2 separate regions of the Homo sapiens genome follow, and region 2 is linked to region 1. Evidence: fine-mapped expression QTL. Tissue or cell type: whole blood. Region 1 holds a variant in brackets; the other region holds the start of a gene. All regions are shown on one strand. Distances are between the middles of the regions.

What was found. PIP is the estimated chance that this variant, and not a neighbour inherited with it, causes the effect.
Region 2: RMI1 starts here. The variant in region 1 is fine-mapped to the expression of RMI1 in whole blood (TOPMed, PIP above 0.99).

Annotation. Positions count from the first base shown.
Region 1 is chr9:83,876,430-83,884,429 of GRCh38, forward strand. KIF27 (kinesin family member 27) reads right to left here. Exons shown (of 18, transcript NM_017576.4): 10 at 7,384-7,589; 11 at 3,868-4,065. Among named protein-coding and RNA genes, the nearest start is that of KIF27, 41 kb to the right of the region's middle. The variant T/C (reference allele first, on the strand shown) is at 3,362.
Region 2 is chr9:83,975,835-83,983,960 of GRCh38, forward strand. RMI1 (RecQ mediated genome instability 1) reads left to right here and starts at 4,971. Exons shown (of 3, transcript NM_001358291.2): 1 at 4,971-5,057. It overlaps HNRNPK (heterogeneous nuclear ribonucleoprotein K), which reads right to left and starts at 4,381. Exons shown (of 17, transcript NM_031263.4): 1 at 4,319-4,381; 2 at 2,539-2,618; 3 at 2,361-2,445; 4 at 1,855-1,952; 5 at 1,161-1,217. The coding sequence starts at 2,418. RefSeq lists enhancers at 3,655-3,814, 4,635-4,684, 4,644-5,151, 4,725-4,784, 4,915-4,984 and 2 more and silencers at 4,355-4,494, 5,305-5,384.

The DNA of each region.
Region 1 (8,000 bases):
GGAAAGACTTCCCATGCTCGTGGATAAGAAAATTTAATATTGTCAAGATGTCAATACTACTCAGAGCAATCTAGAGATTCAACAATCCTTATCAAAATTCCAATGGCCTTTTTTGCAGAAATGGAAAGGCCCATCCTCAAATTCACATGGAAAACTGTAGGGGCTCTGAAGAGCCAAAATCATCTTGAAAAAGAAGAGCAAGGTGGGAGGACTTACTTCCCAATTTCAAGACTTAATACAAACCTACAGTAATCAAAATAGTGTGATACTAGCATGAGGATAGACATATAGACCTATGGAATAGAACTGAGAGTTTAGTAACCATATATCTATGGCCAGTTGATTTTTTAAAAATAAAAATTGGGGCCAAGCATGGTGGCTCAGGTCTGTAATCCCAATACTTTGGGAGGCCAAGACCAGAGGATCACTTGAAGCCAGGAGTTCAAAACCAGCCTGGGAAATATAGCAAGACACTGTCTATAAAAAGTAGGGAAAAAAATTAGCCAGGTGTGGTGGTGTGCGTCTGTAGTCCCACTGCTTAGGAGGCTAAGGCAGGTGGATCACTTGAGCCCAGGAATTGGAGGCTGCAGTGGGCTATGATCATGGCACCGCACTTCAGCCTGGGTGACAGAGTGAGACCCTGTCTCAAAAAAACAAAATTGTACATATGTAAGGTATACAACATGATGTTTTGATATACATAGTGAAATGATTACTATAGTCAAGCTAACATATTTATCTCTTCACATAGTTAGCATTTTGGCTTTTTTTTTGTGGTAAGAGTACCTGAAATCCATTCTCTTAGCAAATTTCCAGTATACAATAGTCATCATGCTGTACACTAAGTCTCTAGACTTATTTATTCTACATAACTGCAACTTTGTACCATTTGACCAACATCTCCCCGTTTCCCCATCAGCATTTCCCTATTTCCCACTCCAGCTGATTTTTGATAAGGGTGCCAAGTCCATTCAATGGAGGAAAGAACAGTCTCTTCAACAGATGGTACTGGTACAACTGGAGTTCCACATGCAAAAGAATAAATGTGGACCACTACTTCACACCATATACAAAAACTGACCCCAAATGGACCAATGACCTAAATATAAAAGCAAAAACCATAAAACTCTTAGCAGAAAACATAAATCTTCATGACCTTGGATTTAGGCAATGGATTCTTAGACATGACACCAAAAAGCACAAGCAACAGAAGAAAAAAATAGATAAATTGGACTTCAACAAAACTAAAAATTTTTGCATATCAAAGGATATTATCAAAGTAAAAAGAAAACCTACAGAATAGGAAAAAATATTTGGAAATCACGTATCTGATAGAATTTAATGTCAGAATATGTAAAGAACTCATACAACTCAACAACAAAGACAAAGAACCAAATTAAAATGTGGACAAAGAACTTGAATAGACATTTCTCCAAAGAAGATTTATGAACAGCCAATAAGCACATGAAAAGATGCTCAACATCATTAGTCATTAGGGAAATGCAAACCAAAACCACAATGAGATACAACTTCATCCATCCTGGCTAACACAGTGAAAACCCGTCTCTACTAAAAATACAAAAAATTAGCCGGGCGTGGTGGCGGGTGCCTGTAGTCCCAGCTACTCGGGAGGCTGAGGCAGGAGAATGGCGTGAACTCAGGAGGCGGAGCTTGCAGTGAGCCGAGATCACGCCACTGCACTCCAGCCTGGGCAACAGAGAGACTCTGTCTCAAAAAAAAAAAAAAAAAAAAAAAAAAAAGAGATACAACGATACAACTTCATACCTACTCAGATGACTATAATTAAAAAAAGGAAAGAAACAGGTGTTGACAAAAGTGAGGAGAAATTAGAACATTCACACATTGCTGGTGGAAATGTAAAATGATGCTGCTGCTATGGAGAACAGTGGTTTCTCAGAAAGCTAAGCACAGATTTACCATATAACCCAGAAATTCTACTCCTAGGTACATACTCCTAGGTACATACCCAAAGGAATTGAAAACAGAGACTTATTTGTATGCCAGTGTTCACTGCAGCATTATTCACAATAGCCAAATGGTAGAAACAACTCAAGTGTCCATTGATGGATGAATGGATAAAGAACTGTGGCATATCCATACAATGGAATATTACTTGGCAATAAAAGGGAATGAAGTTCTTGTACATGCTGCAATGTAGACAAACCTTGAAAATATTATGCTAAATGAAATAAGGCTGACACAGAAGGTAAAATATTATATAATTCTACTTATATGAAGTATCTAGAATAAGCAAATTCATATAGAAAGTAGATTAGAGATTACCAAGAGCTGGGGGAAGGGGAAAATGAGGAGCTATTCCATAATATTACAGAGTGTCTGTCTGGAGTGATGAAAATGTTTTGGAAATAGATAGTGGTGATGGTTGCACAAGATTGTGAATGTAATTAATGCCACTGAATTATACACTTAAAAAACAGTTAAAATGGGTTGGGCACGGTGGCTCACACCTGTAATCCCAGCACTTTGGGAGGCTGAGGCGGGCAGATCACCTGAGGTCGGGAGTTCAAGACCAGCCTGACCAACATGGAGAAACCCCATCTCTACTAAAAATACAAAATTAGCCGGGCGTGGTGGTGCACGCCTGTAATCCCAGCTACTCAGGAGGCTGAGGCAGGAGAATCACTTGAACCCAGGAGGCGGAGGTTGTGTTGAGCCGAGATCACACCATTGCACTCCAGCCTGGGCAACAAGAGTGAAACTCCATCTCAAAAAAAAAAAAAAGGAAAAAAAGTTAAAATGGTAAATTTTATGTTATATATATTTTACCACAACTTAAAAATTAATAATAAATAATGAGTAACTTGGTTTAAATGCTCTTTAAGTTCCCTTCCATTGCTGAATTCTGTGATTTTTTTTTTTAAGGTCGGAAAATAGGTTATATCCATTGTTGAAAATCTAGGAAATCTGGGGCATACTGATAACAGGAGAGGCTAAACATGTGCAGGGACAGGGAGTATATGGCATATCTCTGCACCTTCCTTTCAATTTTGCTGTGAACCTAAAACGGCTCTAAAAAAATAAAATCTTAATTTTTAAAATATCTAGGAAATCTCCAATTATGTCCCATGCCTTGGGTTCAGCTTAACATTTCAACGGAACAGAGCCTGGCACATAGTACTAGATAAGTGTCTGTTATTATGATCATCATCATCTTTTTCAAAAAAGCCCTGTGGGACAAGTAGGATTAAGGCCATTTTAGATGAGAATAAACAGACTCAGAGAGGGTAAAATTTTTGAGAAATTTGAGAAAATTTATTTTCTCAATAAATCTCTCAGCCAGCAACTGAGTGAGCTAGGATTTGAACCTATGATAGCCTGG[T/C]CAAAGAGCCTAGGCTGACACCACTAAGTTCTTCCCCAGCCCAATCTATTCTAGAACTGCTGTGCATACAGGTCTGATCATTTTTCTGCTCACTGTGAATGAAATGGTACCACTTTACCTGGTACTTTTTCTGTGTAGCCACATGGACAACGCATGTCAAAGCACTTTGAAAACAGAAAATCCTATTCAAATGATAGGTATTATTTAGAAAGTTGGCTTTATAAATGTATGTTTTTGACAGCTTCAATTAAAGTTAGGATCCTACTAAGAGAAATTATCATTGTACCTTCTTTTGTGAAGTCAAAGCCTTCAAGACAGTACTCAAAATTCAATAAGTAGGTTTTACTACGTAGATGAACAAAGCTTTAAAGTGAATAAGGACAGCAGTGAAGGGCAGGTCAAGGATAGATACTTCACAAGCCAACTGAATGAAGACCATGGATTCGTTAGCTCTGAGCCGTTTAACATTTCATATTATACTTAGCAGGAATGTATGACAATATTACTTTGATTTTTTGCTGGTCCCGCTTAATTACTGCATCCAGTTGCTTCCTTTTTTCATTTTCTTCTCGTAGTTTTCTTTGTAGCTGTATCTTTTGATATTTCATGTGATCTACACTCTGCTCTAGCTCATTAGCACGTTTCTCATTTTGGATTGACAGTGATGCCAGTTTCTTACTATCTTGTTGCTTCTTCTGCAAGACCTGAGATCATATGGAATATTTCAAAATGAAAAACTGAATCTCTCACAATCCTCAACTAAACTTAATCTTTTCATTTGATGGTAAAAGAAGAAATTTTCCCTAGATTTTCATTTATTTTTGACAGGTTTACAAACAATTGCTTACTATCATACATTTCCATTTTTGCAATTAGGGAAACCATCATAATTTGCATCACATATGTAAAAGTATAAAGAATCATGAGACTTCCTGATGTGGACAACAAACAAATGAAACAGATGATTTGCTTTTCATTAATAAGTATTTTAATTTAAAAAATAGTTAAAACAGTATAAAACTGAATTTATATTTTAAGAGTCACTCTTATCATATACCCCTAATCTACCTGTCCTGCTTCCCAACACAAAATTATCAATTTCTTAAATATTCTTCCAGAAAAAAATGTATGCAATGCATATGCATGCAAATAGCTGCATATGTATTCTATATAGACTACTGTCTCCCTTTTTTCCTACTTATCTCAGAGGTCTTTTCATATAGATTTGTTCCAGGTGGCTGCACAGCATTCTACTGTGCTCTTGTTTTTATAGCTACAGCTATAGCCTAAATCGTTAATCCCTGAGTTAGGATGATCAGAGCTGATAACATCTTCCCTGAGAGTGACCAACCATTATAATTACTATTTTAACATTTATCTTAAATTCCTTCTCATCTAACTAAAATTACGTACAGATAGCATTAGACTTTCAAAGTGTTCACACCACTAATATAAAATACTTGTGTTACAATTTAGTCCTGACCAAACAAACATGTATTAAACTTGTATAATGTGATTAGCATTGCACTAAATACCAATTAGGTGGCATAAAAAAGGTAAAGGGATGTCATTCATAAATTATGCAGACCACAATTAATTATTTCCTTTATTTTGGCAATAAAGTGTTAGCATAGGCAAGTTTTGTTTTAATTAAACTAAGTATCCAAGAGGCACTGCTGCTTAGAGCAGTGCTACTCAAAATGTGATCTGTGGACCAGTGCTAGTTCACAGACATTGTTGTCAATTTGCACTCCTCAGCATACTGTTAGATTCGGTTGACGTTTTCATGTGAGACTTTTTTGATCAAGGAAGCTGTGCAATGACTGACCTTTATCTCATCACAGAACAAGAACAATCGGCAGATGGACTACTTTGGGTACCACTGGCTTGGAGGCCACAGGCCTTTGCCATTTCCAGTACCTAAATTTGGACACTGGCTTTGCCACTTACAATTGACAGTAATTACAATACTGCAGCAAAAATTATAATACCAGCATTTTAGTGTCTTTTTCACATAATATTAAAAATATCAGTGTACATCCTGAAAGTCTTACTTAAGAGTGAGATACTGTTGCCATTGTCTTTTGCACTTATTTCATAGTTGCTCAAAAGTGCATCTGTCAGCATTAAACTATTAATGCAGCATGTAACGCTCTACATATACCTAAAGACATTAAAAATATAGGTTTTAGAAGTTTTTAATTTAAAAATGTTTTGTTTTAAAAATTGAAATAACTGTTTTATACCAATAATAATACTAGTATTTCAATATTTTAAAACAGCATGATATGGCTGGGTGTGGTGACTCACACCTGTAATCCCAGCACTTTCTGAGGGCGAGACGGGTGGATCACTTGAGGTCAGGAGTTTGAGACCAGCCTGTCCAATGTGGTGAAACTGCGTCTCTACTAAAAATACAAAAATTTGCGGGTGTGGTGGCAGGCACCTGTAATCCCAGCTATTTGAGAGCCTGAGGCAAGAGGATCATTTGAGCCTGGGAGGAGGCAACTGCAGTGGGCTGAGATCATGCCACTGCACTCCAGCCTGGGCAACAGAGCAAGACTTCACCTCAAAAAAAAAGTATGATATGTTAGAGAACTGAAAACCGGTATTGTCATCACCACTATGGGACTCTGACTGAGTTATTTTACCTTTCTAAACCTTTCTTTCCACATTTGTAAAATGGCTAAAAATGCCCACTTCAAAGGATTAAATAATGCGTATAAACCATTTGGTATGTATAGGCCCTCAAATGGTAACTACTGTCCTCCTCATCCTCCTTATCATCCTTATCCCCATGAGTAGTGCATGGATATGTCAAAGGTACAAAATTTCTAAAACTATGTCTTCTTTCTGTCCTCTGCTGTATCAGATGTTTCTTTTGAGGTAAAGTTCTACACCTTTCATTTTCTTTCCTTATCAGTACTCTTAGCAGAAAAGGATATACAGCAGGAAGCAAAGCATGGAAAGGTGAATTCCAAAGTGGAAATAACTATGCTGAAGGAAAATGGAAGGTGTGACATAGATAACCACCCTATGTCCTCCTTTAAGCAGTTCAAATATTCAAGTCATATTATTTTAACTTGATGTTGACTTGAGAAACTATTTAGGTAACAATTTTTAGTGGAAATATCCAGATGTTTGAGGTGGCATCAGAAACCCCAGGAGGGACTTTTCAGGCCTGTCACACCAGAATATACTGGTATATTACAATATACCGGGCACACCAGAGGTATATTGTAAACATCTATTTTGTTTAAAGCAAATAACTGTGGCATAGTTCAATAATAATAATAATAATAATGCTGTGAATAGGTTAATTACAACTCTACCTAAAATGGAAAAATATAAAAATGTTTCTATAACATGAAAGAAAGCAGTAGACCATGAGAGATAAAGAAATAGAGGACACATCCTAGAAAGTTCATTATGATCAGACTAACAAAGCACTGTGACTATCTCCAAAGCACCTGGAAATGGCTTCATCACACAAAATCTCCATGTGATGGAATATTTCTCATAGAATAGAATTTTTAACTGTAGCTATTTCTAAAGTTAAAGCTAAAACCAGGCATTAGGAAGTTAAGGATGAGTTGCAGTACACAAAGTTATTAACCTTTCTTAAGCCAATCAGTTATGGTTTGGGAAAACCATATCTCGAAATAGTTCCCATTTGTTGAGTGTCTACAAAGTGTCATATATGTACCAGCTGTTTTATTTGTATTATTTAATCATTATTTAATCCTTTGTCCTTCAGAAATAAACACTGTTTCGTGGTTACGTTTATTTCTTACCATGTGGTTTTTTGATATGATGATTGAAAGAAGATACTTCTTGAATTAAGAAATATACTACCCAGATTGTAAAATATGTAAATCGACCAGCACACTACAAAAGAAAAGTTGATACCCAGTTTCTCTTGCTGGTATAAACTGAATCCCACTTCTTTCCTAACTCAGTACAAGAATCCTCAGAAGCAAGAAAGCTTAAATAAGTTTTCTCAATTACATTTTTTAAATTACCTGAACTCTCAGCTTTGCAGCATCCATCTTTTTACGAAACTCTTTCTGTAATTTTACCTTCATTGCAACATCAGAAAGATCTTTGTTTTCCAGCTCCTGTAGCTGCTTTTGTGTTTCAATCAGTTCGACTTTTGCCTGTTCTGCATCATGCTCTAGCTTTGTTACTTTCAAAGAATACTGCTTGCTTACAGACTTGGCATCATTACCTTAACCGTAATAATAATTATTATTAGTATAAATTATGTAAAAAGAAGTTAAACATCCAAAACATAAAAATACTCTACTCTAAAATCCAGCCAGGCAGTGATACTATTTAAGGCATAGCATTAAAAACCCAGTTGTCCCCACCCACCCCCATCAAACACAGCTTGCCATCAGGCCTCTTAATAATTAGTTCCTTAATGACTGTTCCCATCTGCTGCCAGTCAGTCTCACTGGTTCAATGTTTGGCGTTTTAGAGTGACATCTCTGGTCCTCTGAATTTGTAGTTGAGCTTTGCTGGCATCAAACTCAGTTAAGAAGGATATTTGGAGTGACTGTTTGTCCTCTTGCTTAGTATACTCCAGCCTCCTGCTACCAATAATCTGTCTGCTTGAATTCCTTTTTTAAATTATTAT
Region 2 (8,126 bases), 99 kb after region 1:
ACTTCTCTAAATCTGACTGTGGCTTAACATTAAGGACCTCAAATGATGGTTCTAGCCTTTTTTATTTTTTAAGAAAAACAAACGATGTTTCAGTAGCAGGCTGGCTCATGAGGGTAGACACAAAACCTGACTCAAAGTTTACTGAAATTCTTGAGGAAATGGGGAAATTAATAACCCAGATAATTATACAGAACATCTGGATTAAGAGGAGAGAGGTTTATAAAAGACAAAACAAAAATTCCCACACCACCAAAAACCCTAACTAATAAGACTGGTTTGGTTTTCTGGAGGTTTTGAAATGCATTCCTAGATCCTAACAGGCAAGTTTGTAAAATTTTAAACAAATTTTCAAGTTCAGTTTACAGTAATCAAGAGGAACATACAAAGATCTGCGACCAAGAGAGAAATGAAATACTGTCAAATAAGTACTCGACACAAAGTTATTTGCCTCATTTTTAGCAAGAAAAACATTAAGAAATGTGTACACTATGAGAAAAAAAATTTAGAAATTTTGGTGTAGCCAAGTCCTATAAATGTGCTCACTTCTGGCACTGCCAACATTTAATGTGTCTAATCACAAGAGTCAACCCACTGTAAAATGAAGACTCAAACAAATCATAGGCATTGACGAACAGTTTCCCAATTATAAGATTAAGTGCCTACTCTATTCTTTACCCATATTTAAATCATGCAACCTCAACATTAAATTCTTTGTGCTCCATGTGCAAGCTGTTAAAGAACAGATGGACATTTTTCTTCCCAAAGAAAACAAAAAAATTTTTCTGGATTTAACCAGCCACCTGCAATGGTTTTCAGTAATACTGTAATTGATTCACACACAGGAAATGGTGCAATCAAGGATTTTTACACTTTGTCGCTATTTCTAATTAAGATGTTATCTTGCTTGATGAAGTGAATAATTTGGTGGACTCTTATTAAAATGTGAAGAGGTTTGAAAGAAACCACCCCCCCACCCTGCTCAATCTGGGCTTTTGTTAAAACAGGAATGGATAACTTCGAAATCAATTCTGTAATAATAAATTATTACAAATGTCTTTGTAGCTAAACTATGAAATGATTTCTAGGATGTAAATCTTTAAATTTCTATAGACATATAAACTGAAGCTGCTCGTGTAGTAGTTTAAACTCTTAATACTTACGTCTGTACGGAGAGCCTTAATATTCTTGCCTCCTTTTCCAATCACTGCCCCAGCATTCTGGAGAAGATACAAAGACAAAAAATTATTTTGCCTTTCCCTAAAATTAATAGCTACCTACGCTCTTAGATTTTGCTAAAAAATCCTCTAACCTGTTTGTTATAAGAATAAAAATCTATTTGGGGTTGTAAAAACGACCAGGCCAAAACCAAACCAAAAATCAAAATATAATTCTAAGTGCTGTGAGGACTAGATAGTTTGGAGTACTCAATGTCAGAAATAACACCAAGTATAAAATAAAACTAAGCACAGATTTTATAGCACCCTTTGGTAAAATAAGTCAATTAATTTAGTATTAGTAGGTACCTTCATATTGTGACCTGTGATCAAACAATAAACTGCCAACCAAGCAGTTTCCTAAGGAGTCCACACATAATTAAGATTTAATCTATTAACACTTTAAGAATCACACTCTCCTCCTAGTTTGACCTGTAGTGGCGGTTCACTACAGCAAGGGCTTTAATCTTAACTGTTAGTGGAATAAGAAAACCACCAGAGCCTTCAAGTCTGTTTAGAAAGAACCAAATGTTTTATATTCTTCAATCTGTAAAACTTTGACTTTCTAGAAAGCCAAACCAGACCTTAATTTCTACCTGAGTATGAACCACCTTCAAATTTTCAAGAATAAAATTTATACCTTGCTCTGAAGCAGAATGCGTAATTCAACCATCTCATCAGTGTTTCTAGATCTTTTAAATGCTTGTTCCTCTTCCATATCTTCTGCAGGGCGTTTACCTAAAAATTAACAGTTCACATTTCAAAGAAAGCAGCGAAGTCTCCAAAGTAACTCCATTCTGTTTCAAGAGACTTGTTGCTAATCTTAGGCATGTTTTGAAAAGACCAAAGGCATTGCTACAGACTTGAACGTTATGCTTCCATCTAGTAAAATGCACCAAACACAAAATACTGCCACAAAATACTTCAAAGGATTTGAAATCCCAAAATGCAAGAAAAATTCTTTATATGCAAATCAGTTACTTCTACTTCATAAATAAAAGCTAAGATGTAACTACTGATAATCGCAGAATTACATAAACAGTAATACCAAAAATTCACCACACACTCCTAAGGCAATAATTAACAGAAAAAGGCAATTTATTAACAGGATAAAAAAATACTGTTAAAACTAAAATTTCTTCTCACCAAATTCACCATTGGTTTCAGTGTTAGGGAAGGTTTCTTCTGGCTGTTCAGTTTCCATATTCTTTTATTAAACGGGCACACCAATCTGTGGAAAAATAAAGCAGCTAGTACATTTGGCTTATTGGAAAGCAAGCTGTAAAAAAAAAAAAAAAAAAAAGACATTGCTTCTAGAACGTACCAGTTATTATATATCCTTGCAGAGCAGAACTGAAGCGTTCTGGGTCGGACCAACAACTGACACCCCAGTGCTGCAGTAGCCTATAAGAACCAACACAAATCAGTTTTGCTTTTGTTTATTCTTATTACTGAATATTTGTTTCCGATCACAGTGAATACTGATTTGAACCCAAAAAACCAGCTGTTTCTAAAACTTGATTCTTCATTTTAGGGTTTCACAATTCAAATGACTGCCTAAAAAATACAAAATTCAAGGGAGCCTGGTTTCATTTTTTGCTAAGTTAGAACAATAACTTTTAGCCACTGGATTAAGTCCCACCACAGCAATGAATTGTTTTATACGGCACATTCCCAAAACCCTGAAAAGATAAATGTCATCCACAAAGCATACATTTATGAAAAGTTACAATGCATCTTATTCACTGGGAAAACTAATTTTATATTAAAACTTCCAATTGCTTTCCTATTTCTTTCGACTCATGCTTGAAGCGATCTTATGTGACATCTCTAAAGTTTACAAATACAACGGCAATTGCGAACACATCCAACAACCAGAACAATCTACCGGAGGGATAAATCCAAAAATCTAATATAGGACCAGACCCAAACTACCACAATACCAGTCTATTATTAATCAGCGAAACAAATGGAGCCCTTGAAAACTAACAGTCACTAGCGGATTATTTTAAATTAGGCTTAAGGGAGTACAACACAACAATCATGCCTGTAACACGAAAACTAAAGTGTCTACGTGCCAAAACGGTCGATAGGACTACAAACAGCCTTTTTAAGCTTCCCTCTTGTCGGGACTAGGAGTTGACAAGCGGCCTCTACTAGAAGGTTGGCTAGACAGCAAAGAGCCAACAAGCGAGGCACATTTATGCCTCCCATTCTCCCATACCGTTGGTCGACTTATTGCTCTCCTAACGACAACTGAAACGACATCCTTCCGGCCCAGCACGCAATTTCTGAGGTGTGGTGGGAGAAGAGTTGGATAAGAAAGTTTAAGCAAAAACAGCAGGGCTTATCTGTAAGAATAACGTTGCCGCTTGCCGTTCACCCTTCGGGTCCTGCAGTCACTAGTCCCCAGGCCTCAAAAATCCGCTAAGTATGTGCTCCACTGGCCGAGCGCCAACGCGCCCTCCCCTCCCCGCCTCCCGGCACCGAGATCAAAAACAGCCGGGTAACAGGACGGGAAAAAGCGAAAGTCGACAGCAGAAGCACCGCACCTCTCCTCACCCGGATCCGACAGGAAATGGCGGCCCGCGTAATGGCGACTACGTGCTACTAGGCGGAGCCGAGCGCCGACCCCCTCCCCCACCCACCACGCGGTCCCGAGGTCTCATCCCCCGCATCCTCCCCCCACTGCCCGAGACAAAGCCATCGAGGCAGCCCTGACCGTTCCATCCCCGCCGCTCCAGCTCCGACCCCGGGCCGGGAGACCCAAGGTGAGGCGGGGCTCACACAAAGAGAGCGGCGGCGCGACCTTCTCCCCGCACCGGCCTCCTTTCCTCCACGAGGTCCCTAGTTCCCAGTGCCACATAGCTCCAGCTCATCCTAGAGGCACATGCCTCACGAATCCCCAAGTCTCTAGGACCACAACGCGGACTGCGGATACACGCTCAGGGAAATGGCGGAGGTGGGGGAGGGGACACCGGGCAACGTTCCCACTCGGAGAAGCGGCCAAACACCAAAGCGGCTCCCAGGACGCCTCCCTCAAGCGGAAAAACTGGGCTCCGACCCTCACCTCCACGAGCCGCTCCCCCAACCCGGCTCCTCACCGCGCGAGACTGCCGTCCCTCCGCTGCCGCGCCGCCTCAGCCGGTCGGAGCTAGACAGAAAACGAGCGCAGGCTCCCCTCCCCCGCCTTCTCGCGTCCTCCCCGCCGTCGCGCCCTATTGGCTGCCAGGGCTTCAGCGATGGTGCGAGGGCGAAGCGATTGGCCCGAGGCCACGTCAATCAAGGCGACGGAGGAGGCGACAACCCCGCCTCCCGCCAGCGCCTCCCTTCGGGCTGGGAGGCCACTAAGGGCTCGAGAAAACCCGGGCTTGGGAAAAGTAAACGCAGCCTTTCAGGGAGCCCCAACCCTTACCCGAATCAGCAATACCCAAGCTCCAATAACTCCAATTACCTATAGGCCGCGAACAAGTGGGACACAGGCAAGACGTCGAGGTCGGTGCAGCAGAGAAACAGAGGATAATGGCGTCTGCAGTGCTGTCGCCTGGAGCGCCCTCCTCCTTTCTCGTTCGCGCACTCACTAGCTGGGGGGAGGGGCGGCTAGGGGGCGAACCTCTCGCGAGATCTAACAACTGCCTAGTTCACGCGCACAGGGAGGGGGCGGGGAAGGGGCGTTTTCCAGCCCCGAAGGAGTCCTTTGGGGTTGGAGGAGGGGCGCGAGCGCGCGGCAAATCGGGCGGGAAGAGGTAAAAAAGGAACTGGGAGCGCGCCGCGGCGGTTCCTGTCCTTACAGTTGCGCTGCCCAGGGACCGATGTTGCGCGAGGAAAATGCGGGACGCCCAGGTCGGTGCTCGGCCCAGACTTATGCCCGTGTTTTCACAGCCCACACTCGTGCCCGAAGCCCCTTACCCCGCCCCGGGCTGTGGTCTGTGGGCTGTGGGACGAGCTGCGGCGCGGTAAGTGCGGGCCGTCTGCGTCCGCTGGGCCGGGCCCACGCTTCGGAAACCCGTTGTTTGTAATGGTCCGGGGCGCCCGTCAGTCAAGGCCGGGCCCGGGGGCGCAGCTGGCGGTTCTCGGCCTGCCTTGCGCCGGGGCGGGAGCCGGGGAAACGCGGGGCGAGCCTGGGAGTACTGGAGAACTTCTCGCCGAGAGGGCACAGGCGGTTTCACAGGGCTCTCGGTTCTGAGACTTTCCTCTTGGGTAATGGGACCTGAGATGGAAGTATTTTGTAGTGTCGTCGCTGTAGTTTATTCCGATAAAATTTTTAGGCAATATGTATTGCCCTTGTCTCCTAAAATGAATGCGTATCGCTGAATACGTTGCAGACCTCCACGTTCCATTCAAAGCGCCTGCCTTGTGGCAGTGATGAAAACAGACAAAAACCCTTGCCCTCAAACGTGCTCCTGTTCTAGCGGGTTCAGCGCACACTTGCATTGTATTCGGTTCCTTACTTTTAAGGCTCCTGTGCCAAGCTTTCATGACTTCCTTTGTTAAGGCACATAAGGTCACTTTCAATCGGTGACAGCCCTGGGAAATCTCCAGCCCTGGTAGTACCCGCTTTCCACATCCTTACTCGTCAACCTTCCAGCCTCCGCCCACAATCCCAAACTCATTTTGAAGCATAAAGGTGTCATAATCTGCACATAAAGCGAAATCCACCATTGGCCGAATACATGCATATATTTTAGTGTTGATGAATTTGTGCTGATTCATTCCTGTTATAATGTTTCCTTCTTGGGTAATTTGCAAAACATATATACCAGCATTCTTTTAAATGGCCATGATTGCATCCACCCAGCATCTTTTACTTGACTGATTAGAGGAAAACTCTTGTTAGGGCGCACTGAGGATTTCATGACAAACACCAGTATTTACATTCTGGGAGGATACGTTAACACATGCTGTTAGAACATAATGTCCGGGATTGTGGAATTTATAAAAGTTCTCTTTAAGTGATAATATAATTTTTTAAATGGTCCCCACCATGAAGAGTGTATAGTCTTGTTGGGTAGGTAAAACTTAACTCGCATTTCAGTTCTAAAACACAAAGTTCAGAATTTTATTAAATATTCAAAACTGATGAGTTTATGTAGGGGCTTAGGATACTTGGATTATAGAGATTTAATCCGCCAGTTAGTATTTGCAACATTTAATTGAGTTTGTCATTTAAAACCTGAGACATGTCACTGACACTAATATGCACAAATAGCGGTACGGTAATGATGATGCTGTGCTTTCTTTCAAATTAGGATTTATGTTGCAGTCATCATTTTCTTGATAAGGAATGATGAGTGGGAATCACAAGTAAGCAGCCCTATATAAGAACCTCTTCCGGCCGGGCACGGTGGCTCACGCCTGTAATCCCAGCACTTTGGGAGGCCGAGGCGGGCGGACCACAAGGTCAGGAGATCGAGACCATCCTGGCTAACATTGTGAAACCCCGTCTCTACTAAAAAGACAAAAAAAAAAATTAGCCGGGTGTGGTTGCAGGAGCCTGTAGTCCCAGCTACTCAGGAGGCCGAGGCAGGAGAATGGCGTGAACCCGGAAGGCTGATCTTGCAGTGAGCCGAGATCGCGCCACTGCACTCCAGCCTGGGCGACAGAGCGAGACCCTGTCTCAAAAACAAAAACAAAAACAAAAAAAAAAACCTCTTCCTCCCAGTTTCATTGTCCAGACTGGACCCCGACTGGTGTAAATTATTCATCCCCTCTAGATGCCATTGTGGGATGGTTGCTATTTTTCCCCCCATTTGATTTCTTCTTTACGTCTTTTTAATTTTTAGGTTTGCTCTTTAAATAACAGGAAAGTCTTTTTTCTCCATCCTTTTATTCTCTGTTTGAAATTAAGACTTTTCAACCCAATAATTTTATACCTGTGTTCATTCAAGAACTTAACAATACATTCATTGACTCCAGTCTTGTGTAATTGGTACAATGGTGTAATGGTGTAGTGATCACTTTGGACTCAGTGAATTTAGACCCAATATTACTTAGATGGGGGATTTACTTTAGATGGGCTAATATAATTGAGAATGTACACTATCCAGCTGCATTATTGTTTAAAATAGTATTTATAACTACTATTTCCTGAGTTCCCCACTGTGTGCTAAACGTTGTGCTGGCAGTTTAATACTTTTTAGAGTTCTTTGAGCAAGTTGTTAGTTATCTTTGTTTTGTGAACGAATGAACTAGCACTAAGAGAAGCTAAGGAACATATCCAAGGTCACATAGCAAAATGGGGTTCCAGATTCTCTTTCTGTCTTTTCCTTACTTTAGGTTATGGAGGATCCATAAAAATCTCCTCTGATTACTTCTTCTAATTTCAGTCATATACGGTATAAATTTTTCCTCCCTAATTTTCGGAGTATCTTCTCAAAAATTCCAGGATTACCTTGAACTCATCCTCAATGAATTAAAATGTAGACTTACCTTTATTGTTTAGATGAAGATAATGGAACTGTGGAGTAGATTTAAATATTCGTTAGTGCTTTTAAGTCTCAGCTATTGTCAGAATGACACACGTAAGGTCCAAAAGGATGACACTCCTGCCTCGCTTTTTATTAAAAAAAAATTGGAATATATGAGGCTGACTGAAAATTAATCTGTAAATCAAATATGCCTAGACCTTCGTGGTAGGTGATAAAATTTTCCCACTTTATTTTCTTTTGTTCAGTTCCTGGCAGTACAGATCTAGAATGCAGATTAGTGTGGTCAGCCAAGTTTATCATTCATACAATGCTAATCAGCTTTCTTAAAAATGTTTTTTCCTGATTATAAAATTAATGGGGATTAAGCTGTATGTAATTTTATATGTGTTCTTTTTCCCAACAAAATGTGAATGTATTTCTTTGTCATTAAATAATTCTTAAAAATGGTTTCTTTAAAGATTTCATAGCTTTTCATTTCATGGTG